Linked DNA regions of Homo sapiens. The protein of the gene in region 7 interacts with the protein of the main gene of each other region in a pairwise test. Each region holds a gene or a part of one and is shown on either strand. Other genes may lie near its edges.

What was found.
Region 1: the proteins of KCTD15 (region 7) and APBB2 interact in binary tests that used the Homo sapiens proteins (3 or more experiments, as listed by UniProt).
Region 2: the proteins of KCTD15 (region 7) and NOXA1 interact in binary tests that used the Homo sapiens proteins (3 or more experiments, as listed by UniProt).
Region 3: the proteins of KCTD15 (region 7) and KIF1B interact in binary tests that used the Homo sapiens proteins (3 or more experiments, as listed by UniProt).
Region 4: the proteins of KCTD15 (region 7) and PRPS1 interact in binary tests that used the Homo sapiens proteins (3 or more experiments, as listed by UniProt).
Region 5: the proteins of KCTD15 (region 7) and NOTCH2NLC interact in binary tests that used the Homo sapiens proteins (3 or more experiments, as listed by UniProt).
Region 6: the proteins of KCTD15 (region 7) and NOTCH2NLA interact in binary tests that used the Homo sapiens proteins (3 or more experiments, as listed by UniProt).

What each region holds. Positions count from the first base shown.
Region 1 is NC_000004.12:40,819,543-40,823,042, reverse strand, and holds part of APBB2 (amyloid beta precursor protein binding family B member 2), read left to right. Parts: intron 1-992; coding exon 993-1,172; intron 1,173-3,500. UniProt on the Homo sapiens protein: Plays a role in the maintenance of lens transparency, and may also play a role in muscle cell strength. Involved in hippocampal neurite branching and neuromuscular junction formation, as a result plays a role in spatial memory functioning.
Region 2 is NC_000009.12:137,426,393-137,429,892, reverse strand, and holds part of NOXA1 (NADPH oxidase activator 1), read right to left. Parts: exon of another isoform or gene 1,861-3,500; coding exon 1,752-1,860; intron 1,453-1,751; exon of another isoform or gene 1,277-1,452; intron 1,012-1,276; coding exon 877-1,011; intron 618-876; coding exon 510-617; intron 1-509.
Region 3 is NC_000001.11:10,360,570-10,364,069, reverse strand, and holds part of KIF1B (kinesin-like protein KIF1B), read right to left. Parts: intron 3,142-3,500; coding exon 3,027-3,141; intron 2,379-3,026; coding exon 2,245-2,378; intron 788-2,244; coding exon 726-787; intron 1-725. UniProt on the Homo sapiens protein: Has a plus-end-directed microtubule motor activity and functions as a motor for transport of vesicles and organelles along microtubules.
Region 4 is NC_000023.11:107,631,510-107,635,009, forward strand, and holds part of PRPS1 (ribose-phosphate pyrophosphokinase 1), read left to right. Parts: intron 1-3,500. UniProt on the Homo sapiens protein: Catalyzes the synthesis of phosphoribosylpyrophosphate (PRPP) that is essential for nucleotide synthesis.
Region 5 is NC_000001.11:149,456,621-149,460,120, forward strand, and holds part of NOTCH2NLC (notch homolog 2 N-terminal-like protein C), read left to right. Parts: intron 1-3,500. UniProt on the Homo sapiens protein: Human-specific protein that promotes neural progenitor proliferation and evolutionary expansion of the brain neocortex by regulating the Notch signaling pathway.
Region 6 is NC_000001.11:146,156,022-146,159,521, reverse strand, and holds part of NOTCH2NLA (notch homolog 2 N-terminal-like protein A), read left to right. Parts: intron 1-2,706; coding exon 2,707-3,042; coding exon of another isoform or gene 3,043-3,230; exon of another isoform or gene 3,231-3,292; coding exon 3,293-3,369; 3' UTR 3,370-3,500.
Region 7 is NC_000019.10:33,803,370-33,806,869, reverse strand, and holds part of KCTD15 (BTB/POZ domain-containing protein KCTD15), read right to left. Parts: intron 12-3,500; exon of another isoform or gene 8-11; coding exon 1-7. UniProt on the Homo sapiens protein: During embryonic development, it is involved in neural crest formation. Inhibits AP2 transcriptional activity by interaction with its activation domain.

The DNA.
Region 1 (3,500 bases), on a different chromosome or scaffold from region 7:
ACCACCAGTCATCAGCCTGCCCCACAGCTGCCCGGTTCACCCTGGAGAGAGGAGCAGGGTGCTCACTGCCTGCCTCCAGCTGGCCACACTGAGCTCTCCTCACCTCTTCAAGTAGGTCCCGCCCTTCCCCACACCAGCATCATCGCAAGCACTGCACCCTCCATGCTCCACCCTCTGCCTACCCGACCCTTACCCAGATCACCACCACAGCCTCCTTCCTCCTGAGAAAACTTCCCGACCTCTCACACTAGTGTACTTTGCTCATTAAACACTCCCAAGGCACTAGAGTGAATATTTAATTAGTCAAGATGTTAATGATCCAAAAGTCAACATTTTGGATGTGTTTATTAATTCAAAACTTGCATATGGTTCTTGCAAAGGATGTGGTGTTCATCCCTATGAGAAAGAATTCTGAACATTTCTTTACGCTGCCTCATGTGGATCCCAGATGGACACCAGTTTGCAAGAGAGAAAAGAAAAAAACAATTTGACAACTTTTTGTTGATTTGGCAGCTTTTTGTTTTATATGGTTTTAGATGGAAATGTGATTCAGTGTGCTGTTTAGTTTGGGTAAGAATCACTGGACGAAGAAAGATACCGTGAATCCCTTTTTTCTGGTGCTCTGGGGGTTTACTTGGCCAAATGGGTTTTGGGCCACCAGGTGTCCTGTATTTGGGCTAGATGTAAGAAGTATGGACGGCACTGTCCCTCCCCACAGTGAACTCACAGCCACGTAGCATAATGGAGAATGGGACCCACATCACACCCCATGACAGCAGTGTAGTTCAGAGCAAGAATGACCTCCAGAACAGGGTAGCCATGCAGTGATGGCCTCTTCAGACATTTGGGCAAGGTTCCGCCTTTCGAGAAAAACACAGGTCCTTTCTGAATTCGGCCTGGCTATACTTTCTGAATGCCAGTTCCTATGTGCTGCCACTCTTAAGCTTGATCCTGGGATCTCCTGATTGGATGCCGCATAATGTCTCTTGCAGAATGAAGAGGAAGTCTTAGTGGAATGTCGTGTGCGATTCCTGTCCTTCATGGGTGTTGGGAAGGACGTCCACACATTTGCCTTCATCATGGACACGGGGAACCAGCGCTTTGAGTGCCACGTTTTCTGGTGCGAGCCTAATGCTGGTAACGTGTCTGAGGCGGTGCAGGCCGCCTGCATGGTGAGTTATCCCGGTACAGGCTGTTGAGCCCTCCCGCCTCTGCTCATCTCTAATATGCCATACATTATAGCAGAATCACTCACGGAAATGAAAAAAGTCGAATCCCTAAAGTAATGCTTTACTTTATAACGCCGTCATTCCTAGGGCCAGAATCAGTTATGATAAACAGATTACATCTCCAAAGGCCAGAACTCCTGAAAGAAGTGGGGCCAGATAGAGGCTCCGATGAGTTTCATAACCACCACCTTGACGACGGTCAATCCTTGATCCCAAATCAATTTCATGTGTGAAATGTTGGTCGTGTATGAGTTGGTACTGTTTGGGTTCAATTCAGTACTTTAAAAATCAATACATTGAATGACTTTTGTTTCCAGTGATTGGTTTCTGTACACCGTTCTTATATATTTTATTTATATCTGTTAACTCAGTCCTTCCGACAACTCTGTTAGGTAGTTGTTAGTTCTGTTTTATTTATGAGAAAATAGAGACTTTAGGGAAGTTAGAGAATGGGCCTCAGGGCTTGTCGGTAAGTGACAGAGCCGAGCCTGGATTCAGCCCCAAGCTGCCAGGTGACAAAGTCAGAGCTCTTTATACCACATGGATACTTGGAAACAAACAAGAATCCCTCATTATTCCTTCAGCATGTGTCTTTGTGCCCCTCTTATGCCAGACACTGCAAAAGTTCTAATAAAAATGAGGGAACTGGGCCGGGGGTGGTGGCTTACGCCTGTAATCCCAACACTCTGGGAGGCTGAGGCAGGCGGATCACTTGAGGTCAGAAGTTCAAGACCAGCCTGACCAAATGGAGAAGCCCTGTCTCTACTAAAAATACAAAATTAGCCAGCGTGGTGGCGCATCCCTGTAATCCCAGCTACTCGGGAGGCTGAGGCAGGAGAATCACTTGAACCTGAGAGGCAGAGGTTGCAGTGAACCGAGATCGCGTCATTGCACTCCAGCCTGGGCAACAAGAGGGAAACCCATCTCAAAAAAAAATGAGGGAGCTATATGAGTGTGGGCACCAAAGCCTGTGGGCAGGTGTGTTCCAGCAGCAGCAGGTTGGGTGCTGGGCCCGAGTGGAAGGAGGTGCGGTCCAGATCATGGCGGGCTTATGATGATGGCGTGTGGGGGCCTGATTTTCTTCAGCAAGGATTGCTAAACTGGGGATTGAATTGATTGTATTTAGATTATTTATTTATTTATTTATTGAGATGAAGTTTTGCTTTTGTTGCCCAGGCTGGAGTGCAATGGCGCGATCTCAGCTCACTGCAACCTTCGCCTCCTGGGTTTAAGTGATTCTCTTGCCTCAGCCTCCCAAATAGCTGGGATTACAGGCACCTGCCACCACGCCTGGCTAATTTTTTATATTTTTAGTAGAGATGGGGCTTCATCATGTTGGCCAGGCTGGTCTCAAACTCCTGACCTCAGGTAATCCACCCGCCTCAGCCTCCCAAGTGCTGGGATTACCGGCATGAGCCACCGCACCCAGCCTGTATTTAGATTTTAGACGAGTATCCAGCAAAAAAAGAAGACAACCAAGTAGAGGATAGGTTGGAGGAACAAGGCTGAGGTGGCGATCAGCCAGGAGCCCAGTTACCTTCTGCAGATGGGAGAGAGGAGGAGCGTCCACGCTAGGAGAGCAGCGTTGGGAACAAACAGGAGCAGAGGCTTTGAGAAGCACCGAGCTGCCTGGCTGGGGGAGAACTGCTGCATGTGAAGCCCCTGGGCTTCATTTAATTCAGCCTCGCACTTACGGGCTGGAATCTGGGGCATTCAGCATGACTGAGATACAGTCCTTGCATTGTAGAGCTCAGGTATAGTGGGGGAGACACAGAAACCTAAACTCTGTTACAGTGTAGAAAGTGCTGTAAATAAAAGTATGAGGATCTTCACTTTCAGCCGGGCGTGGTGGCACATGCCTGTAGTCCCAGCTTCTGAGGAGGCTAAGGTGGGAGGATGGCTCAAACCCAGGAGGTCGAGGTGCAGTGAGCTACGATGGCACCACTGTAGTCCAGCCTGGGTGACAGAGCGAGACCCTGTCTCAAAAAAATAAATAAGAAAAATAAGTATGAGACTGTGCTGGATTGAGAAGTAACTGGGAAGAAAAAGAAGTGGAGGCCCTAAAAGCAGATAACTTACAAAGTTTGCCAGTGAGGGGGAGCTTGAAGGGCAGCATTGGAGGGTTTGTTCATGTGTTTATTTCAGGACAGGAGAGGCCTGCCCCTTTTTTATTCTTTATTTTTATTTTATTTTATTTTTTTTAAGAGATGGGATCTTGCTATATTCCCCAGGTTGGTCTTGAACTCCTCCCTGGAACGGCAGGGGAGCACC
Region 2 (3,500 bases), on a different chromosome or scaffold from region 7:
GACCTCGCTATCTGTGGCAGGGACGCAGGGACCCCCCCCCCCCGGGACCTCGCTATCTGTGGCAGGGACGCAGGGACCCCCCCGGGACCTCGCTATCTGTGGCAGGGACGCAGGGACCCCCCCGGGACCTCGCTGTCTGTGGCAGGGACACAGGGAGACACAAAGGCATGAAAGGACGCAGAGAGACGCAGGGACTCTGGGAGGCTGCAAGGCTGTGGCTGTGGCCATGGCCCAGTCTGGGGGCGGGGTGGCACCTGCAGGGTCCTTGTTGAGAGAGCTGGAGCCCCCTCCTATGCAGCCGGCTCTAGTGGGCTCTGCCTTCAAGCTCACAGCCCCATTTGGGGCACCGCCCCCCTACCGTGGGCGCCAGTTTGAGGATGGCTGTGGGCCCACTCTCTACCCTCCTGGCCCTTACGGTGGCCTGGACTGCACCTCCCCCCATCCCTGGGAACACAGTTCGAGGGCTCAGCACCAGCCGCCATGCCCCAGGACGCCGTCCCCACCTTTACCTTGGCCTTGCCCAGGAAATCCACGGGCTCCAAGTGCTTCAGGTGCCACCGGTGGGGCCGGAAGACCTCGCCCCTGGGGACCTGCCGTGGCGGCAGTGAGCCCCGTCTCTGGAGGGGGTGGGTATCCAGCAGATGCAGACGGGGTGACCAACCAGGCCTGCAGCCGCAGAGCCCCTGTGCCTTGGAGCAGAAGGGGCCGCTTGGGCCCCCCACCCCCTTCCCGCAGGTCACAGGAAGCCCCCGCCTGGCACCCGAAACTGGGCACTAGGGCCATCTCCCTCCGGAAGCTTCTTCATCTCATGAAATTGGTCTTGAGGAGCTTTGGTAGGCACCAGCCCAAAACCATGACCGGGCTGGCACTCCTCACCTGCACTTGGTCCAGGGCTGAGTCCAGGCCATTCAGGGACCCCTCCGGCCACTTGGACATGGCCTCCCTTAGGCTGCTGGCCGCCTCTGTCCAGAGCCCCAGCTGGCACTGTGCCGACGCCACATTGTGTAGCACCTGGGAGTGGGGCCAAGGTGATGGCAGGGGCCTGATGCCCCACCCAGGCCCTCTCCCGGTTCCCCCACCCAGCTCCTCCCTCGGTCTGCCCACCCAGCCCCTCCCCCAGTCCCCCCACCTGGCCCCTCCCCCATCCCCCCACCCAGCCTCTCCCCCAGTCCCCCCACCTGGCTTCTCCCCCGTCTCCCCACCCAGCTCCTCTCCCAATCCCCCCACCCGGCCCCTCCCCTGCACCGTTCTGTGTCCTGGGCTGGCGGGCCCCCACCTGGCTTTAACCCTGACTCCAGACCCACACCAGTGGGCTTTCCCTTCCATCTTTTTGTCCTAAAAGACAATGCTATTCCCAGAAGGCTTCAGGGCGATGCATTTCCGGGGTCTGGTGGGGGGGCCTCTCAGCACCCCTCCTTCGGTGCCAACACGTTCCAGGCAGCCAGGAAAGGGCTGGGGGCACAGTGGAGGGTGGGCACAACCCCCTGCCTGCTCCCTGCCCACCCAGCAGCCTTTCGCCTCTGCCCTCCTTCTGGGTGGAGCCACCCCTGGTGGCCTGAAATGGCACAAAATGGTCCCTCCACCTCCACTGCCACCAGAACCTCCTGCGGGTCAAGGAGTGGCCAGGGTATTCCATGGCACCAAGAGCTTCGGCCAGAGGCGCTCCCCAGTCCACAGGGCCCTCCTGTGACAGTGCCACCGCCCGTGGACACCCCACAGCCAGCAGCACAGTGAGCCCTGCCCGGCCTCACCTCCCAGGCTTGCAGCTTGAACCGCAGGCCCAGCTGCGTGTAGTCGATGGCAGCGTGGCCCCTCAGCTGCTCCAGGGCCAGCCAGAAGTCAGACAGAGCCTCCTGGAACCTGTGGGCAGCCGGGGTCCCCTCAGCAGCACAGGGCGGAGATGGGGCTGTGGTTAGGCAGCTTTCACACCAGCCCCGCTCGAGCCGCCCCCAACACCTGGTTCCAAGGAGACCTGAGGGAGGGCAGTGCGGTGCCTAGGTCTGCACACTCAGGTCTGGTGGGCCAGGGGTCCATGCACATGTGTGCTGAGTGGGTGTGGGGGTCACTGTGTGCTGGGGCTCCACCATTTTCCCAGCTCAGACTCAGCTTCCTGGGCCCCTGCCCGCCCCCAAGCCTCTCTTCTGAACCGTGCAGAGAGCCCTGGTTATTTCCCTCCTGCTTCTCAGGCCCCCCACCCCATGGGGGCTCCCCCTCCAAACTCTGAGCCTCCTTCCAAGCCTTGCTGGGAGCTCCCCAGCGCCTGCCGGAGAGGCCTCTCCTCCAGGCGGGCTTCCCGCGCCGATGTGAAGGAGAGGCTGCCCCAGAGGGGTCTGGATCGTAATCCAGAAAGGGACAGTCCCACAGCCATAATCCCGAATGCTGGGACTCTTCAGTAAAGGAAGAGATGGCTTTTTCGTTCATCTGCCTTTCTGAAAGGTAAAATATCTCCAGATCCGGGCTCTCTGGGCGACTGCGTATGTGGTGGTCCCTGAAGCCTTTGATGGATCTTGTTAGAAGGTGGGTTGTTCATCTTGGTGTTTTGATGACCAGTTATAAAGCCAGGTGCACACAGTCACCAGCCAGAGTCTACGCACCTACGTCTTACCCCTTCTGACCTAGCTCCTCATGAGCACTGTTCATCTGCTCGTAGTTCTCACACCCGTGAGCCTGTCGCTAGCGTGCATGAATTTGTGCTTGAAAAAATATGTATGTTATTTTTGTCTATTTTATCGGCCAATGAAGGGTTCCGTCGTGTTTTTATGTTTCTCAAATAAATCCCTTTAAAATATGTAAATAGGCTGGGCGAGGTGGCTCATTCCTGTAATCCCAGCACTTTGGGAGGCCGAGGCGGGTGGATCACCTGAGGTCAGGAGTTCGAGACCAGCCTGGCCAACATGGTGATGCCCAGTCTCTACTAAAAATACAAAAATTAGCCAGGCGTGGTGGCACATGCCTGTAATCCCAGCTACCCGGGAGGCTAAGGCAGGAGAATCGCTTGAACCCAGGAGGCGGAGGTTGCAGTGAGCCGAGATCGCACAATTGCACTCCAGCCTGGATGACAGAGCAAGGCTCCTTCTCAAAACAATTTTTAAAAAGTAAATAAATATCTTTTACAGAATTTTATTTTTTCTAGAATTATATTTTTTGGGATTTTAGATTTGAGGGGTTTTGATATTTCAGGATTGCGAGGCTCTCGGGACTGTGATCCACTTCCCCACAGAGCCTGCCCTCCTGGGATGGGGCCTGTGAGTGTCTAGCAGAGAGGCCGAGGCATGGCCTGGTCTGCAGTCCCGATGGTCTCCTTTCCCTCATTCCTCCTTTAGGAAGGGACATGGTGCAGAGAGCCCAGGTAAGCAGTGAGGACCCCACGACCTGTGTCCAAGGGTGGCGCTCAGCAGAGGCGAGGGCCACAGTCTCAGGTTTCCCTGGAGCCAGGAACCATGGAGGAGGGGGTGGGCAAGAGGAGGGAGTGGATGGAGAGGGAGGAGGAGGAGGTGCAG
Region 3 (3,500 bases), on a different chromosome or scaffold from region 7:
TTAGTATTATGCTGGTTTTACATATTAAATACATGAATTTATATTAATTAAAAAAATTCCTCAAGAAACTATCTGGATAGTATAATAATTAGGTGCTACTTGGATTCATACTCAAAGTCTTCTTTACTTATCTAAGTCTTGCCTGTGGGCCCTGACTTGTTTTCCATGTATATTCTGTAAAATGACTCAAACTCACATTAATCAAATGCTATTAGAAAACCTTAACTTTTGTTCATGTTTCGGTTTACAAACATAGAAATGCTAAGTGCTGCTTAACTCCGCCTAGCTAGAGGAACAAGAGCAGTTTAAAAACACATTAAAAAGAATACAGAACAAATCTGACTTAATAATTTGATTTTTTTTTCTTTTTCTTTTTTGAGACTGAGTCTCACTCTGTCACCTAGGCTGCAGTGCAGTGGCACAATCTCGGCTCACTGTAACCTCTGCCTCCCAGGTTCAAGCAATTCTCATGCCTCAGCCTCCTGAGTAGCTGGGATTACAGGCACGCGCCACCACACCTGGCTAATTTTTGTATTTTTGGTAGAAAGGGGGGCTTCACCATGTTGGTCAGGCTGCTCTTGAACTCCTGGACTCAGGTGATCCACCCGCCTTGGCCTCCCAAAGCGCTGGGATTACAGGTGTGTGCCACCGTGCCCAGCCTAAATACAGGATACTTGAAACATACACAAAGATAACTATCACCTCCTCAATCCACAAGAGCTTACCTGGACTACCTGTGTCTGACATTTTGCATAAGCTGAGTTCGTAAATGCCAGTGACTCGATTCCTATTTGAAGAAAATAAAACAATTGTTTAATCTCTTAAAGCACAAAAACAGGAAAATTTCAATTTCTGCTACTTAAAATAGTGTCTTCTCTGCAGGGACTCAAATATAATTCCAGGCATTTCTTATTTGTCACCGCTCTTTTCTTATTTTGAACCTAAGTAGCATACCTTTTCCTAGAGGAGTCCGCTTTCATCTCAATTTAATTTTTTTATAGATAGGGTTTCCCTGTGTCACCCAGGCTGGAGTGCAGTGATGTAATCACAACTTACTGCAGCCTCGAACTCCTGGACTAATGTGATCCTTCTGCCTCAGCCTCCTGAGTAGTTGGGACTTCAGGCATACACCACTATACCCAGCTAATTTTTAAGTTTTTTTGTAGAGATAGGGTCTCCTTATGTTGCCCAGGCTGGTCTTGAACTCCTGGCCTCAAGTGATCCTTCCACCTTGGCATCAAAAAGTGCTGAGATTATAGGCATAAGCCACCATGCCCCACCTCATCTCTATCTTTTAAACACTTTATTTCAATAGGGTGAATAAAATTGAATGATAAACTAGAAAATTTAAAATATAAATGTGAAAACTAAAAATTTGTCTTTTCTTACTATAAGAGAGACGATATGAGGGAAACAATGACTAGAATGAAATGATAATCAACAACTTCTGGGGATTGTGAGTAGTAGGAGGTATAATACCTTCTATTGTATTAGTAACACTTATTTTTAAGCTGGGCGGTGATACACAGGTATTCATTGTATTGTTTCTTTCTTTTTTTTTTTTTTCCTTTTTCTTTTCTTTTTTTTAAATTTTGAGACAGGGTCTCACTGTTTCACCCAGGCTGGAGTGCAGTGGCTCTATCATGGCTCACTGCAACCTCAACCTCCCAAGCTCAAGTGATCCTCCCACCTCAGCCTCCTGAGTAGCTGGGACTACAGGTGTGTGTCACCACACCTGGGTAATTTTAAAATTTTCTGTGGAGATGGGGTCTGTGTTGCCCAGGCTGGTCTCAAACTCCTAGGCTTAAGCAATTCTCTGTCCTCAGCCTCCCAACGTGCTGGGATTACAGACATGAGCCACTGTGTATGGCCTTCACTGTATTATTCCTGACATATTTTGTATGCCTTAAATATGCATAACAAATCTTAAAAAGAAGAAAATTTCAATGGTACTCTGTTAGAAATAATGATGATGACATTTAAAAGTCTTTGCAAATTTAGTCTTTGCAAAATTGTTTTAGACGTGTTCACAATGTAATATTCCTTCCTTCCCTCATAACTCGTCCATCCATCAACATTTTATTAAATGTCAGCATGCAAGTCAGTACATTCCAGGTGTCAGTTACCAAAATGGTTCATAAACTGTAAACTAACCGTGAGACAGTAAGCCGAGAATACTTAAGGACTAATGATTCTGTTGTACTGAACAAACACACTGGAAGCTAACTTGTGTGAAAAACTTACGAATCTGGTGACTTTGAGTAGCCGCTGCCAAAGAGGCTACGCAGAGAGCGTGGTGGTGAGATCTTGGCATCTCGGGAGTAGAAGACCATGCACACATCCTTGGTGATGACAGCCGGCTGGATGCAATGATCCAGCTGAAAGCAGACAGGGTAGGTGCTGATGAAGTGCAGGCAGAGTACTGTGACTAGAGTCTATACACGAACGTATTTGGAAAGCGAGTCCCAGTTGTGAGAACTGAAGGATTTTAGCTCCACCAATTATTTCAACAGCCACCCAATGGATAATATGTGCAAGAGTAGGTAGTACTCCTTAGAGATGCATTTATTTTTATCTGAGGTAAATGTTGTTTCTCCTGATAGGTGAGGAAACTGAGGCAAAGAGAGTTTCTCCAAGGACATAGAGGAAGTAAGTGGCAGCACAGGGATTTGAACCGACAGGCTGGGTCTTGGGTCTGGGCTATTAACCACTATTACACTCTGTCCACAACTACAAAAACAAGAGGTGACATTTTCTTAAAAATCACACATTCTTCAAACAATGGTGATTAGGCTACTAAAGCTGAAGCTGCAATGAGTCATGTGATTTTTTGAGTAAACAGAACCCAGGAATAGAGTCTAATATAATCAGAAGAGTTAGCAATGTATAATAAAATGAAAAACTTAAGGATGTGGAGGAAGAAAGAGGACAAAACAAGTGGAATCTTCGCTGACCACTTCCTGCTGTAACCTGCACACTGTTCAGGGCTGACTGTTGGCATCAACTGAAGTTCCAAGTCTCCTCACCTCTAGGTAGGCCGACAAGGTCATGTAGATCTTTTCTCCATAGGGTGTCACTCGGTTCAGAAGAAGGGAGTTATGCAGAGAGCTATCCCACACAGCCTCAAAGCGGTAGAAGGTCCTAAGGTCAGAAAGACAAGAGGGAATCATCCAAAAGAAGCTAAAGTCACGTTAGTCCAGGTACTGCCACTGTCAATCATCCTAAAGAACCATACGCCAACCAACAGACACTTTCAGTTTATCAAACTCTAATAACAGAGAGGAACCCTTATCTCCTAGGAGGAAAAGATAGGTCCCCATCCTCTTGCTCCCAACCCCACCCATCATTAAGGAACACTTAGTTGTGCTTTTTTTTTTTTTTTTTTGAGACAGAATTTTGCTCTGTTGCCCATACTGGAGTGCAGTGGCACAATCTCGGATCACTGCAACCTCTGCCTCCCGGGTTCAAGTGATTCTCCTGCCTCAGCCTTCCGAGTAGCT
Region 4 (3,500 bases), on a different chromosome or scaffold from region 7:
ATGAACATAAATCTTTGACCATTTCTGATTATTTCCTTAGAATAAATCCCTAGGAAGGTAATTATTAAGTTAAAGGGTAGATACCATTTTTCAGGCTTTTGATACCTGTTGCCAAATTATTCCCCAGAAAAGTTGAACAAATCTGTCTCATCAGCAGTAATACAATATTAATAATATTTATTTATGTATTTATTTTTTGAGACGGAGTTTCACTCTTACTGCCCAGGAGTGCAGTGGTGCGATCTCAGCTCACTGCAACCTCCGCCACCCAGGTTCAAGCAGTTCTCCTGCCTCAGCCTCCCGAGTAGCTGGGATTACAGGCACGTGCCACCACGCCCAGCTAATATTTTGTATTTTTAGTAGAGACAGGGTTTCACCATGTTGGCCAGGCTGGTTTCAAACTCCTGACCTCAGGTGATCCCCCACACCTTGGCCTCCCAAAGTGCTGGGATTATAGGTGTGAGCTACCGTGCCCGGCTATAATATTTAATGTATAGTGAATGCCTAAGATGTGCTAGTTTCCATGCTAAGCATTTAGTATACATTGTGTTTAATCCCCTCAAAACTGCTATGAGGAATAACTCTTACTATCCCTATTTTACAGAGAAGAGAACTACAGTAAGATGCAGAGTAACTTGCCCAGCTCTGGGTATTATTGTTCCTTTAAATTTTTGCTGACAAGATCTCTCACCTGGCTTTAAAAACTTAGATATTCTAAAATTTTGACTCTATTCTCTTCAATATTTGTAAATAACTTTGGTTTATTTGGTTATTCTGTACTAGCTGAGAGGAGGAAGACTTGAACTTTGGTTGCCTAGGGTTTTCCTGAGAACTGTATCTTCTGGTTGTGGTTAGTTAATCCCATGTATTTTGCACATGCCAATATCTCCATAATCTAAATTCTTCAGATTTTCTTAAGACTACTATCCACCTTTTAGATTCACTTTTGGTGTTTCCTGACATTCCATTTCAATTGGATACACTTATGCCTGACCTTAAAGGAAAGGGAAAAGAGAAGCTAGTTTTTTCACTCATTGGATAGACATAGCCAGTCTTCTGGCCTCACCAAAACAGCTGAGAGAATGATTGGCCCAAAGCCATTTGGAGAACACTCCATTAACTAGAGGGAGAGAACAAGGAGTATTACTCTCTAAATTGCTGAATTAGGTTTTTCCACTTAATAGATTATGTTAGGAGCAAACAGGTTTTAGGCACAAATATTCTTCTCGATCACTGCCATAACTTAGAAGAAGCCATAAGAATAAGGTTAAGATTTTTAGAGGACTTGTTGAACCAAGCTGTATAATCAGAGTGCAATTCACGGACTTTTTAAGACTTTGTCAAACAAAGTCTGTATGTTATAGTACTACTATAGGGAAAGATTGGTTTTAATAAGTGAAATTAGAATTATACACATTAAAACAAGGCAGTATCACCTAGTTTACTTGCACCACCTTATTTTATTTATGTATTTGCTTTCTAAGTTTCTCTACTTTTATTTCATTTTTGTAAGATCTTTTCAAAAGCCCCACATTTTTTAAACAGTTAAATAACCTTTTCAAGTTATTAGATACATGCCTTATAACAAACACCTTCTATGCTGAAGGTAGCTTTTAATTTTAAAAAGTTTGAGCCGGGTGCGGTGGCTCACGTCTGTAATCCCAGCACTTTGGGAGGCCGAGGCGGGTGGATCACGAGGTCAGGAGATCGAGACCATCCTGGCTAACACGGTGAAACCCTGTCTCTACTAAAAATACAAAAAATTAGCTGGGCATGGTGGCAGACGCCTGTAGTCCCAGCTACTCGGGAGGCTGAGACAGGAGAATGGTGTGAACCCAGGAGGCGGAGCTTGCAGTGAGCTGAGATCCTGCCACTGCACTCCAGCCTGGGCAACAGAGCGAGACTCCATCTCAAAAAAAAAAAAAAAAAAAAGTTTGGCTTTGAGAAATAGCTGAGCTGTTGATTGATTATTAAGTGATATAATAACAAAAATGGTACTAGCGACTGTATTGGGTGGTAAGCTGATAAGTGATTTTTATTTATTTTTATTTTTTGTTTGATAAGTGATTTATAAAAAATTATTATTCAAGCCTTATGTGATGTTAGAATATGTATATTTTAAAAATAATCACCTTGGCTGGGTGCGGTGGCTCACACCTGTAATTCCAGCACTTTGGGAGGCCAAGGCAGGCGGATCACCTGAGGTCAGGAGTTTGAGACCAGCCTGGCCAATGTGGCAAAACCCCATCTCTACTAAAAATACAAAAATTAGCCAGGCGTGGTGGCACACACCTGTAGTCCCAGCTACTTGGGTGGCTGAGGCAGGAGAATCACTTGAACCTGGGAGGCAGAGGTTGCAGTGAGCAGAGATCACACCATTGCACTCCAGCCTGGGTGACAGAGTGAGATTCCGTCTCAAAAAAAATAAATACAATTTAAAAAATAAAATAATCAACTCTATTAAAGCTATATATTTATCAGATGCCCTTTGATGTTTTAATTAGCAGTGATAATTTAATTTTTAAATAGTATCTCACCTGCTTTCAAGAAAGGATTTGAAGTATGTTTGATAGTCACTAGTACAAACCGTTTGTTAAGGTAGGTATCAGAAGCCTTATAGAACCATGGACTACAGTAATTGTGGCAACTATTTGGCATAAAACAATTTCTAAAGTTTAGTGTTACTTTTTATTTTATTTATGTATTTATTTATTTATTTTTTTGAGATGGAGTCTAGCTCTGTCTCCCAGGCTGGAGTGCAGTGGCGCGATCTCGGTTCACTGCAAGCTCTGTCTCTCGGGTTCACGCCATTCTCCTGCCTCAGCCTCCCGAGTAGCTGGGACTATAAGCGCCCACCACCACGCCCAGCTAATGGCTAATTTTTTTTTTTTTTTTGTATTTTTAGTAGAGACGGGGTTTCACCATGTTAGCCAGGATGGTCTCGATCTCCTGACCTCAGGTGATCTGCCCACCTCGGCCTCCTAAAGTGCTGGGATTACAGGCGTGAGCCACCGCCCCAGCCTAGTGTTACATTTTTTTAACTGTATCCCTTGGCTTCCTGACAGCCAGAGGGATAAAGGCATATGCAATCGATTATGTGGTTTTTATTTTCATAAAGTTATTTAGAAACTTCCAGGCAAAAAATCCTAAGAATTTTATGGGTGAGACCTCTAAATAGTGATATCGAGTAACATCATGGACAATATAACAATTTTGTGGGTATTTTTTATATTGACTGATAGTTGAGGCATTTGTAAAGGGAGATAAGCCACTGTGGTCTAAGAATGTTGTTTTCTGGTCTTACTTGATAATGATAAAGTTTTTTGTTTTTTTTTTTTTTGAGACAGAGTCTCGCTCTCTCGCTCTGTCTCCCAGGCTGGAGTGCAATGACTTGATCTCGGTTCACTGCAAGCTCTGCCTCCCAGGTTCACGCCATTCCCCTGCCTCAGCCTCCCGAGTAGCTGGGACTACAGGCGCCCGCCACCACACCTGGCTAATTT
Region 5 (3,500 bases), on a different chromosome or scaffold from region 7:
TTGTTCTGACCTCATTTCAACTCAGTCACCCAAGCCAACCTCTGAGTTGCCTTTCACCTGTCTATTCCTCCCATTTCCTCTGCTACCCTGTAGCTGAAGGCCATGTTATCTCTCACCTGGGCTTCTGAAGTAGTTTCTGAATACGTTTTCTTGCCTTTATTCTCTCCCCATCTCATTCACCCATGATATTACTACATCTTTGATTATAAATGCAAATATTCTAACAATCTCACCTGCTTACAATGTCTAATATTTTTTCATCATCCGCAGAATAAACTGCAAACTCTTTTACATGACTTCCATAGCTCTCTACAGCCTAGACTTTACATCTTTTTATAGCCTGGCCTCCCCACAAGCATCTAGGCCTAGTCACACCAAATTCTCCTTATTTCCTGAAAATGTTGTACTTATTATTGCTTCCATACAGTTACACACCCTTTTGCCTGGAATGCCCTTTTCTACAACTGGTGATTGTCCAATGTTATTTAAAACTGTGTCTTAGTGACCCTTTCATGATTCCTTTAGGCAAATGGTCTCTAAGTTTTATTAGTTTTATGTATCACATTTTATTGTAATTTTTTTTACACATATCTCACCTGAATAGATTGTGGGTTTTTCTAGGTGGGTCTGAGCTTTATTCAAAAGTGTTTATTAAATTAGATGAGAAAAGGAGGAACATTCTTCATTTTTTCTCCTGCTTTAAGCACTAAACCAAGAGTTCTATAAATGCAATAAGCAAAAAAGTGAAAAATGTACTCAGAAGACTATACTGGATCAGTTAGTGTAGAATACTGTTATATTAATTTTTCATTGTATTAGGGTTCTCTAGAGGGATGGAACTAATGGAATATATATGTATGTATATATATTCCAACCCAAAGTGTCTTGGTGGCAATCTTAATATATATATATTGGCAATCTTTATATATATATAAAGGAGAGTTTGTTAAGTATTAATTCACATGATCACGAGGTCCCACAATAGGCTGTCTGCAGGCTGAGGAGCAAGGAGAGCCAGTCTTGAGTTCCAAAACCGAAGAACTTGGGGTTCGATATTTGAGGGCAGGAAACATCCAGCACGGGAAAAAGATGTAGGCTGGGAGGCTAGGCCAGTCTCGCTTTTTCATGTTTTTCTGCCTGCTTTATATTTGCTGACAGATGATCAAATGGTGTCCATCCAGATTAAGGGTGGGTCTGCCTTCCCCAGCCCACTGACTCAAATGTTAATCTCCTTTGGCAACACCTTCACAGACACACCCAAGATCAATACTTTGTATCCTTCAATTCAATCAAGTTGACACACTCAGTTTTAACCACCACAAATCTACCCCTTGTCAACTTGAACCCATACACATCTCCTGAGATCACACATAATCTTCAAATAAAGACAATAATTAGGTCATAATTACACCTGATGTAGTACAACTATTCTTCGTACATCCGGAAACACACCAGTCCCCAACTGAAACACTCTTACATAAAGTTAACGATACTTAAATGCTGATGTGAAGTCAATAAATCTTATGTCACATGATAAAGGAGAAAGGAAATAAAATGAAGATATTTTCTTAGTACAAGTGTGTGCAAGCACAGACATGTTTTTAATAAAAGAAGGAGGAAATACTGAGGACAATTACAGTCCTCATTTCTGCAGCTGGTCACATGGTAGTAGCTGGTATTGATGACTACCTTCTTCTACCCATTTTGTATTCCTTTTGCCTTCAGCAAACACCTCAGCAGGTTGTGTTTTTTTTTTTCCTGATGGAGAGGCCCAAACCTTCATTCATCCAGGCGGGACCATTTGTAGTCCCGCCTGGATTGGGCTGTTGTAGTTGCCCATTGACCTTAATCACAGGGCATGGTAATACTAAGAGACGCCCTAATGGATCTCCTGTATTCCATGAATACTCTTTCTTACCTCCGTTCTGGAGTAGTAGACTGATTTCATCTTGATAGCCTGGGTCTTGATAGCCTTGATGTCCCAGCCAACACTGTAACGCCTTTCTTAGCCTGTTTACTTAAAGGTAGGAACCCAAAGTGTCCTGGTGGCAATCTTAACTACCAGTTTAATGGAATTGTTGTTGTGTCTTCTGGTGGCAGCGTTCCTCCCTCTGGAACTAAGACCTCTAGGCCAGCAGAACTTAATGTTGCGGGAACAGGAAGCAAACATTTTGCTAGTGGATCACTAGGGGTGATGGTGAGTGGTACCACTTCCATTTCCACCCCTTGATTCCTGGACCTGTGAATCCTGGCTATGGGAGAAACAGTACCACATATTGGACGCTGATTCAGAGCATACACAGCCTTCTTGAGAACTTTGCCCCAACCCTGCAAAGTATTCTCACCTAGTTGGCATTGTAATTGTGACTGCAAAAGGCCATTCCACCGTTCTGCTTCAGGATGTTGGGGAACATGGTAAGACCAGTGAATTCCATGAGCATGAGCCCACTGCTGCACTTCTTTAGCCATAAAGTGAATGCCTTGGTCAGAGGCAATGCTGTGTGGAATACCATGACAGTGGATAAGGCATTCCATGAGTCCGCGGATGGTAGTCTTGGCAGAACCATTGCATGCAGGATAGGCAAACCCATATCCAGAGTAAGTGTTTATTCCAGTAAAGACAAACATCTGCCCTTTTCACAATGGAAGAAGTCCAACATAATCAACCTGCCACCAAGTAGCTGGCTGATCACCCTGAGGAATAGTGCCATATCAAAGGCGCAGTGTTGGTTTCTGCTGCTGGCAAATTGGGCACTCTGCGGTGGCAGTAGCCAGGTCAGCTTTCCACCGGCCCATCTTGTTTTCTGCACTGGGAAGGTGGGGCATGAGCACAAATGTTAGGACCTGAAAGGTGGTGAACTCTGCCTGGGCAGGGCAAAGCCAGAGGAAACTCTGGTGGAGGTCCGTAGCAGTCCTGATGTGCAAATCGGTCATCCAACCTGGGTGTAGGGGCGAAAGACTAATTGAACCATCTAGTAGCTGGTTCCCTCCAAAGTTTCCCTCGGGATAGCTGGCACTCTCGCAAAAACCCCACTCTTGGTACCAATTTACTGTATTAGTCCATTTTCACGCTGCTGATAAAGATATCCCCGAGACCGGGAAGAAAAGAGGTTTAATTGGACTTACAGTTCCATATGGCTGGGGAGGCCTCAGAATTATGGTGGGAGGCAAAAGGCACTTCTTTCATGGTGGTGGCAAGAGAAAATTAGGAAGAAGCAAAAGCAGAACCCCTGAGAAACCCATCAGATCTCATGAGACTTATTCACTATCATGAGAATAGCACAGGAAAGACTGGCCCCCATGATACAGTTACCCCACTGGGTCCCTCCCACAACACATGGGAATTCTGGGAGATACAATTCAAGTTGAGATTTGGGTGGGGACACTACCAAACCATATCATTCATCAAAAGGTGTTGGTGGGGTAGAGGGTAGTTAGGATGATCCATGATCTCCATCATGATGATGATGGTATTGATGATGTAAGTCACTGAAAATATT
Region 6 (3,500 bases), on a different chromosome or scaffold from region 7:
ACATAATATATATGGAAACCAAATTCAGGGTTGATTCTTTCTTTCTTTCTCCCTTCCTTTCTTTCTTTCTTTCTCTTTCTTTCTTTCTTTCTTTCTTTCTTTCTTTCTTTCTTTCTTTCTTTCTTTCTCTCTCTTTCTCTCTTCCTCTCTCTTTCCCTCTCTCTTTCTGTCTTTCTTTCTTCTCACTCTGTTGCTTAGTACAGTGGCGCAGTCTCGGCTCACTGCAACCTCCACCTCTTGGGTTCGAGTGATTCTTGTGCCTCAGCCTCCCAGGTAGCTGGGATTACAGGCATGCGCTATGAAGCCCGGCTAATTTTTGTATTTTTAGAAAAGATGGCGTTTCACCGTGTTGGCCAGGCTGGTCTCAAACTCCTAACCACAAGTGATCTGCCCACCTCAGCCTCCCAAAGTGCTGGGATTACAGGCATCAGCCACCACTTCCGGCCCGGGGATCTTTCTGTTTCAGTTGTGGGCATCACTCTGAAAATCACACTTGCTAGAAGTGAGCATTTATATCTCTTCTCCACTGTAAATAAGTGCCTCTTAGTGACATGAGTGGAAAGACAAGAAGAATTGCAGTTCCTTCATTTTCTGTCTTAGCTCCCTGAGATGTATATGCTGTGCCTAAATTTGTGTTATAGTTTTCTCCTTTGATTTGACATTCCTTGATAGGCAGAGAGCACTTTTCTGTGCTCATATGTCACATCTCGCATCTTTTTCCCTTATAGAAAAACTCTTGTGTCTCCCATTTACCTTTCTATGAGGTCAGAGATTTAGATACTTTCCTAGACAATCAACTGGAGTATTAACAAATTCAAGGAGTTCTCGCCATCCCATTACTGGGTATATACCCAAAGAATTATAAATCGTGCTGCTATAAAGACACATGCACACGTATGTTTATTGCGGCACTATTCACAATAGCAAAGACTTGGAACCAACCCAAATGTCCATCAATGATAGACTGGATTAAGAAAATGTGGCACATATACACCATGGAATACTATTCAGCCATAAAAAAGGATGAGTTCATGTCCTTTGTAGGGACATGGATGAAGCTGGAAACCATCATTCTCAGCAAACTATTGCAAGGACAAAAAACTAAACACCGCATGTTCTCACTCATAGGTGGGAATTGAACAATGAGAACACTTGGACACAGGAAGGGGAACATCACAAACCGGGGCCTGTCGTGGGGTGGTGGGACGGGGGAGGGATAGCATTAGGAGATGTACCTAATGTAAATGACGAGTTAATGGGTGCAGCACACCAACATGGCACATATATACATATGTAACAAACCTGCATGTTGTGCACGTGTACCCTAGAACTTAAAGTATAATAATAATAATAATAAAAATTCAAGGAGTTCTTATCTCTGTAGTTTAAATAATAAGCGACTTAGACTAATGACAACAAAAAGCCAGCCATGTGAATACCAAATTTACTAGTTCTGTGAGGATATTTTTTTCTCTTTCTCTTTCTGCCTCAAAGAATCTGCTTTGCTTCCCCTGGCATCATGATTTAGTTTTCAACCCGTCAGAGTCTTCCTGCTAGTGCTGGTACTTTCCTACTTGAGAAAGTCCACGGAATACCTTCGAGACCTCTGTCCTCCTGATGGCTTCTATTTCATTTGTTATATAGGGACCCAGAGGTCCTTCATCATTTTCAAACACATCAACAGATATTTATAGCAAGGCCACAATTAATAAAATGTTTCCCAGAATATATGTGTGTGTTACATTTAGAGGAAACAGAAGTAGTATTGACTTGTTTCTATCACCAGAGGTCTATTTAGTAACTATATTTTGTGGAAAATATCGATATATTTTATCCATTCAACAGACATGATTTGAGAGCATACCACGGAGACCCAACCCTGCCAGTGTGGCAGGTGGTATAATAGAAGAAAATAGCAAACTTGGTGTATCTGTCTTTGCGCACATGTATGTATGTGAGGGGCACTAAGGATGACTTTACAGAGGTTGGAACTTTTGAGTAGAGTTGCCAAGATAGGGAGAGTTCACTAGGAAAACAGAAGGGAAGTTGATTTTTTTTTTTTTTTGAAATGGAGTCTTGCTGTGTCGCCCAGGCTGGAGTGCAGTGGTACAATCTCGGCTCACTGCAACCTCCGCCTCCTGGGTTCAAGTGATTCTTCTGCCTCAGCCTTCCAAGTAGCTGGGATTACAGGTGCGCGCCACCATGCCCAGCTAATTTTTGTATTTTTAGTAGAGACAGGGTTTCACCATATTGGCCGGGCTGGTCTTGAACTCCTTACCTCATGATCTGCCTGCCTCGGCCTTCCAAAGTGCTGGAATTACAGGTGTGAGCCACTGCTCCTGGCCCGGAAGTTGATATTCAAACAGGAGCAGCATATGCAAAGACAGTGAGCTCTGAGAGAGTAGATGGATCCAGACTCCTATTGCTGATAGCGTCCTGCAGGATTGGGCTTCAATGTGACTAACCTACAATTGCCTCCAGGTGCTCCACCCACTGAGTCCTTGTGTCTCTGCTGAGGTCCTTGGAGAGTTACTGGAGAGGGCTCTGTGTCAGATGACCTTGAGGAGGCTCTGATTTAGCCTTTTGTAAAATGCAAAGAGTTGAGGTCTTCTCCACGCAAGAGCTCGCTGATGTCAATGAGGTATTGAGGATGGGGCCATCTCCTATTTCTGTGGCCAGTACTGAGTTTTGTTATCCTTCCTTTAGGTAAGGAGTGCCAATGGACCGATGCCTGCCTGTCTCATCCCTGTGCAAATGGAAGTACCTGTACCACTGTGGCCAACCAGTTCTCCTGCAAATGCCTCACAGGCTTCACAGGGCAGAAGTGTGAGACTGATGTCAATGAGTGTGACATTCCAGGACACTGCCAGCATGGTGGCACCTGCCTCAACCTGCCTGGTTCCTACCAGTGCCAGTGCCTTCAGGGCTTCACAGGCCAGTACTGTGACAGCCTGTATGTGCCCTGTGCACCCTCGCCTTGTGTCAATGGAGGCACCTGTCGGCAGACTGGTGACTTCACTTTTGAGTGCAACTGCCTTCCAGGTAAGGAGCTCCCTAGTGTCCCAGGATTAGGGGACAAACCCCTAGCACAGGAGGTAGTGGGTGTGGCTCAATTGCTTTTTTTAGGAAGCGCAAGGAAAAAGGGAAGTGAGAATTTTGTGTGGGGTGGGTTGCTAGTGAGGGAGGAGTTTTATGGGCCCACTGTGGTCCATAAACTGAGCAGGGGATAATTTAGCATGTCAGGGTTTATGATGATGAGTGGCTAGAAAATTGTTTATTGTCCCTTTTGTAGAAACAGTGAGAAGAGGAACAGAGCTCTGGGAAAGAGACAGGGAAGTCTGGAATGGAAAAGAACACGATGAGAATTAGACACTGGAAAATATGTATGTGTGGTTAATAAAGTGCTTTAAACTGAATTGACATTAACAGTGGGTGATCAACTTTACTATGTGCTTGTGCTTTTGCTTTTGATGGAGTAATTCATTGTTTTCTTATCCACC
Region 7 (3,500 bases):
GCTTATCCTGGGAGAGACAGGCGAGGTGGGATGTCTGAAGGGATGGGGACAAGTCTGCCTGTCTTCCCACACCCCGCCCCCACTCCTGAGGGCCCACACGGCTGGAGGGGCGAGGGACCTGACATGGGTGACTCTGGAACTGTTCCAGGCCTGACAACATCTGCACACACCTGGGGCAGCCAGGCTACAGTTAACAGGACACACCACACATCCTGCCTACACCCGCAAGTCACAGCCAGAGAGGGACACACCCAGCTGTACACACCAGCCTGCCAACACACGTTATGTTACAGGCCTGGAAAGGTATAGCAAGACACAGGCACCTTACCCCCTACACACAAACCAGCTGGTCACAGGCCTGGTGCACACACCCTTGCCAGATAGACCCACCCAGAAAATGCACATGAACCATCCAACACCCCGGCCAACAGCCACACACCCAGTAAACGAGCCAGGACATACATCCTCCCCACCCAACCCATGTAAACGAGTGTGAGACACACAGGCCTGTGCAACAGGCACAGGGTCACATGGTCCCTTCCTTCCCAACACACACATATCATGCAGATCCAGACACATCCAGGAAAGGACACACACCTGTCAACACCAGGCACCCAGAGACATGACGGCACAAATCCCCTACTGCCGCTCACTCAGGGAGCCCACAGGGAGAAACAGAGGCAGACAGGAGGGATGGCAAGTGTGCCACAGCACACACATGCAACAGGGCCCTTGCACACATGCCACAACACAGGCATACACACACGCACACAGAAACCATGCACACACATGCACCACAGTGCATACATATGTGCACACATGCCAGAGCGTATGCACACCACACCTAGTGGTGGCGGATGGGGACTGGAGAGAAGGCAGGTGCCGGTACCCTGTCCTCTGAAGGGCAATGGTTCTAACAAATGCAAGACCAGGAGAAGGGTCTTGGGGAGCCCCTGATGCCTGTCCCTGTCCACTCCGGGGAGAAGGAGCCAGGCCTCAGAGCCAGGGCTGATACCACCTCCCCAGTGCCCAGGGTGGCCAGCTCTGGTTTGGCAACTGCCCTGGCAGACCCCAGGTCGAGCTAGGGATAACTAGGAACCCTAAAGAGGGGTGGGAGTAGCCAAGGGCTTGGTTTGGGAACAGGAGGGAAGTTGGCATCATTTCCCCAAGGGCAGCACCACCACATCCTTCAGCAGGCAGGGCCACACTCCTGCCCAGCTGGACCCTGCCAAGGTGGCAGCTTCTCTGCACAGCTGGGAGAACAGTAGCTCCAACTTGGGACCTAGGCTTCCCAGCCCGGCCTGCACACAATCTGGAGCCTAAGCCCCTCACTCTCTGCCTGCACCAGCAGGGACCCCTGCAGGGATGCCCCCTGTTCTAACAGCAGCCCACTCCTCTGTCCACTCCAAGTCAGCCGTCTCCAGGGCCCTGCCCCACTGCCACTTGCACCCAGGACACACTAGCTGGGCAGGAGCTGAGGGAGTCAGAGCCCCCAAGTCTGCCCTCAGGGCCTCCCGTCCACACCATCCTATGCTCTGATGGCCCAGCACACTCAATGCATCAGCCATGATGGTCTGCCCGGGTATGGAGTCTCTGGGAACACGGTGCAGGTTTCTCTCCTAGCAGGGTAGTATAAAGGGCACGGTTTAGCTGGGCACCGTGGCTCACACCTGTAATCCCAGCACTTTGGGAAGCTAAGGTGGAGGACTGCTTGAGGCCAGGGGTTCGAGACCAGCCTAGGCAACGCAGCAAGACCCCATCTCTACAAAAAATTTAAAAATTAGCTGGGTATGGTGGCATGCACTTGTAGTCCACTTGGGAGGCTGAGGTGGGAGGATCACTTGAGTCCATGCGTTTGAGGTTGCAATGAGCCGAGATCACACCACGTACTCCAGCCTGGCCAAGAAAGACAAACGCTGTCGCTTAAAAGAAAGAAAGAAAAGGGCAAGGCTGTCTCGTGGATGGGCATGGGGAGGTCAGAGTCTGCTGTGAGCCCGAGTCTGTGGACCCAGAGCTGCAGCCACCCAGATACAACTCATCTCAGAGCTCCAAAGGCCGATGAGCCCTGTCAACCCCCTAGGCCTGGTGACAATGGCACTGCAGGTCACAGCCCCTGCTGGAAAGGCTGTGGGTTCCACGGCTGGCTCCAGTTACAAAGGCCCTAGGACCTGGCCTAGTAGAGCGTGGGCATCCAGATGTCAGAGTGAGGGCCACCCAGCATTCCTGGAGACAGATGGGTCTGTCCCAGGCTGCCAGATACCATGGGCAGTGGTTGGCAGGTGGCTGAGGTCCATGTGTGGCACCGGTGGGAAGTAAGAGCTACATCCAAGGTGAGTCAGCAGATCCAAACCCTCAGCCTCCTGGGAACTCTCCCCACCCTTCCCAGTGGAGCTCCAAAGTCCATGTAAGCAGGCAGCATTCTAGGCCTGGCTGAGTTCCCAACCCTTCTGACGTCAGGTCTGGCTGAGGCTCTAGCTGGTCCTGTTGGTCTAGAAGACTCCTGATGCACCCACATTCCAGGGCTGGATGGGTTCTAGGTTGTCTCATCGGTCCAAGTTTAGAAGGTTTTCCATCTGCCTTATTTCAGGACAGGCTGATTCTAGATCTTTCCATGGTTCAGTATAGGCTCCTGGATCAAGCGGCAGCTGTACCGCCTCTCCCAGGACAGAGGCCTTTCATGCCCTCAGCGTCTGAGGCTGCCAAGGACGTGAGCAGGTTGAGGAAAGGTGAGGATAATCACCATGGAGGAGCCCTCAGCCATTCTCAGCCCTGCAGGTATGAGTTCCCAGCTCTGTCAGGGGCTCCACGTTCCCTGTGGAAAATGGCCCAGGCCACCCTCTGAGAGAGGATGCAGGGTTTGAGGGGCCGGCTTCCGAAGTCCTCCATGGAATGAGGTGGCCAGTTCACGCTGCAGCAGGTGGGACCCTCAGGGGCAGAAAAGATGCCTCCAACCACCTGCCCTGTGTGCACAAGGGGGAGCATCAGGATGGCCTTCGTCTTCTCGTTTATTTCCTTTTTTTTTTTAAGCTCTGGCTCCAATTTCCTGGCTGTTTCAGGCACCAGGTTTTAAGAGTTCTGAAGCTCCTGGCCATCTTCATTTGATGCTTCCCATAGTCAGGATGGATGTCAGAGTGTGGCTGTGATGGCGGCAGCTAACGGGGGTCAAGCAGGCAGGACACCAGCAAGGGGGCCGGCCCAGGGAATCCACTCCCAGCCCCGGCTGTGCTTGGCTGTCTCGGGTGAGGACCAGTGACTGCTCCTAGGCAGACCAGAGGAGTCACCCAGCACGAGACTCTCCAGCACCCAGGCCACCCCAACCGCCGAGACCCAGAGGCTCAGGCAGAGTTCTCAGGGGAGCCGAGGGTAGAGGTCCCAGCTTTTACAATGCTGCCTAGGGCAGGTCATCTTCACCATCCAGAAACCCCCTGAGGACCACAGCACTCTTAGTCCTCCATCTCCAGGTGTCTCCTAGATCAGTGACACTAGGTGAGATTGATTTT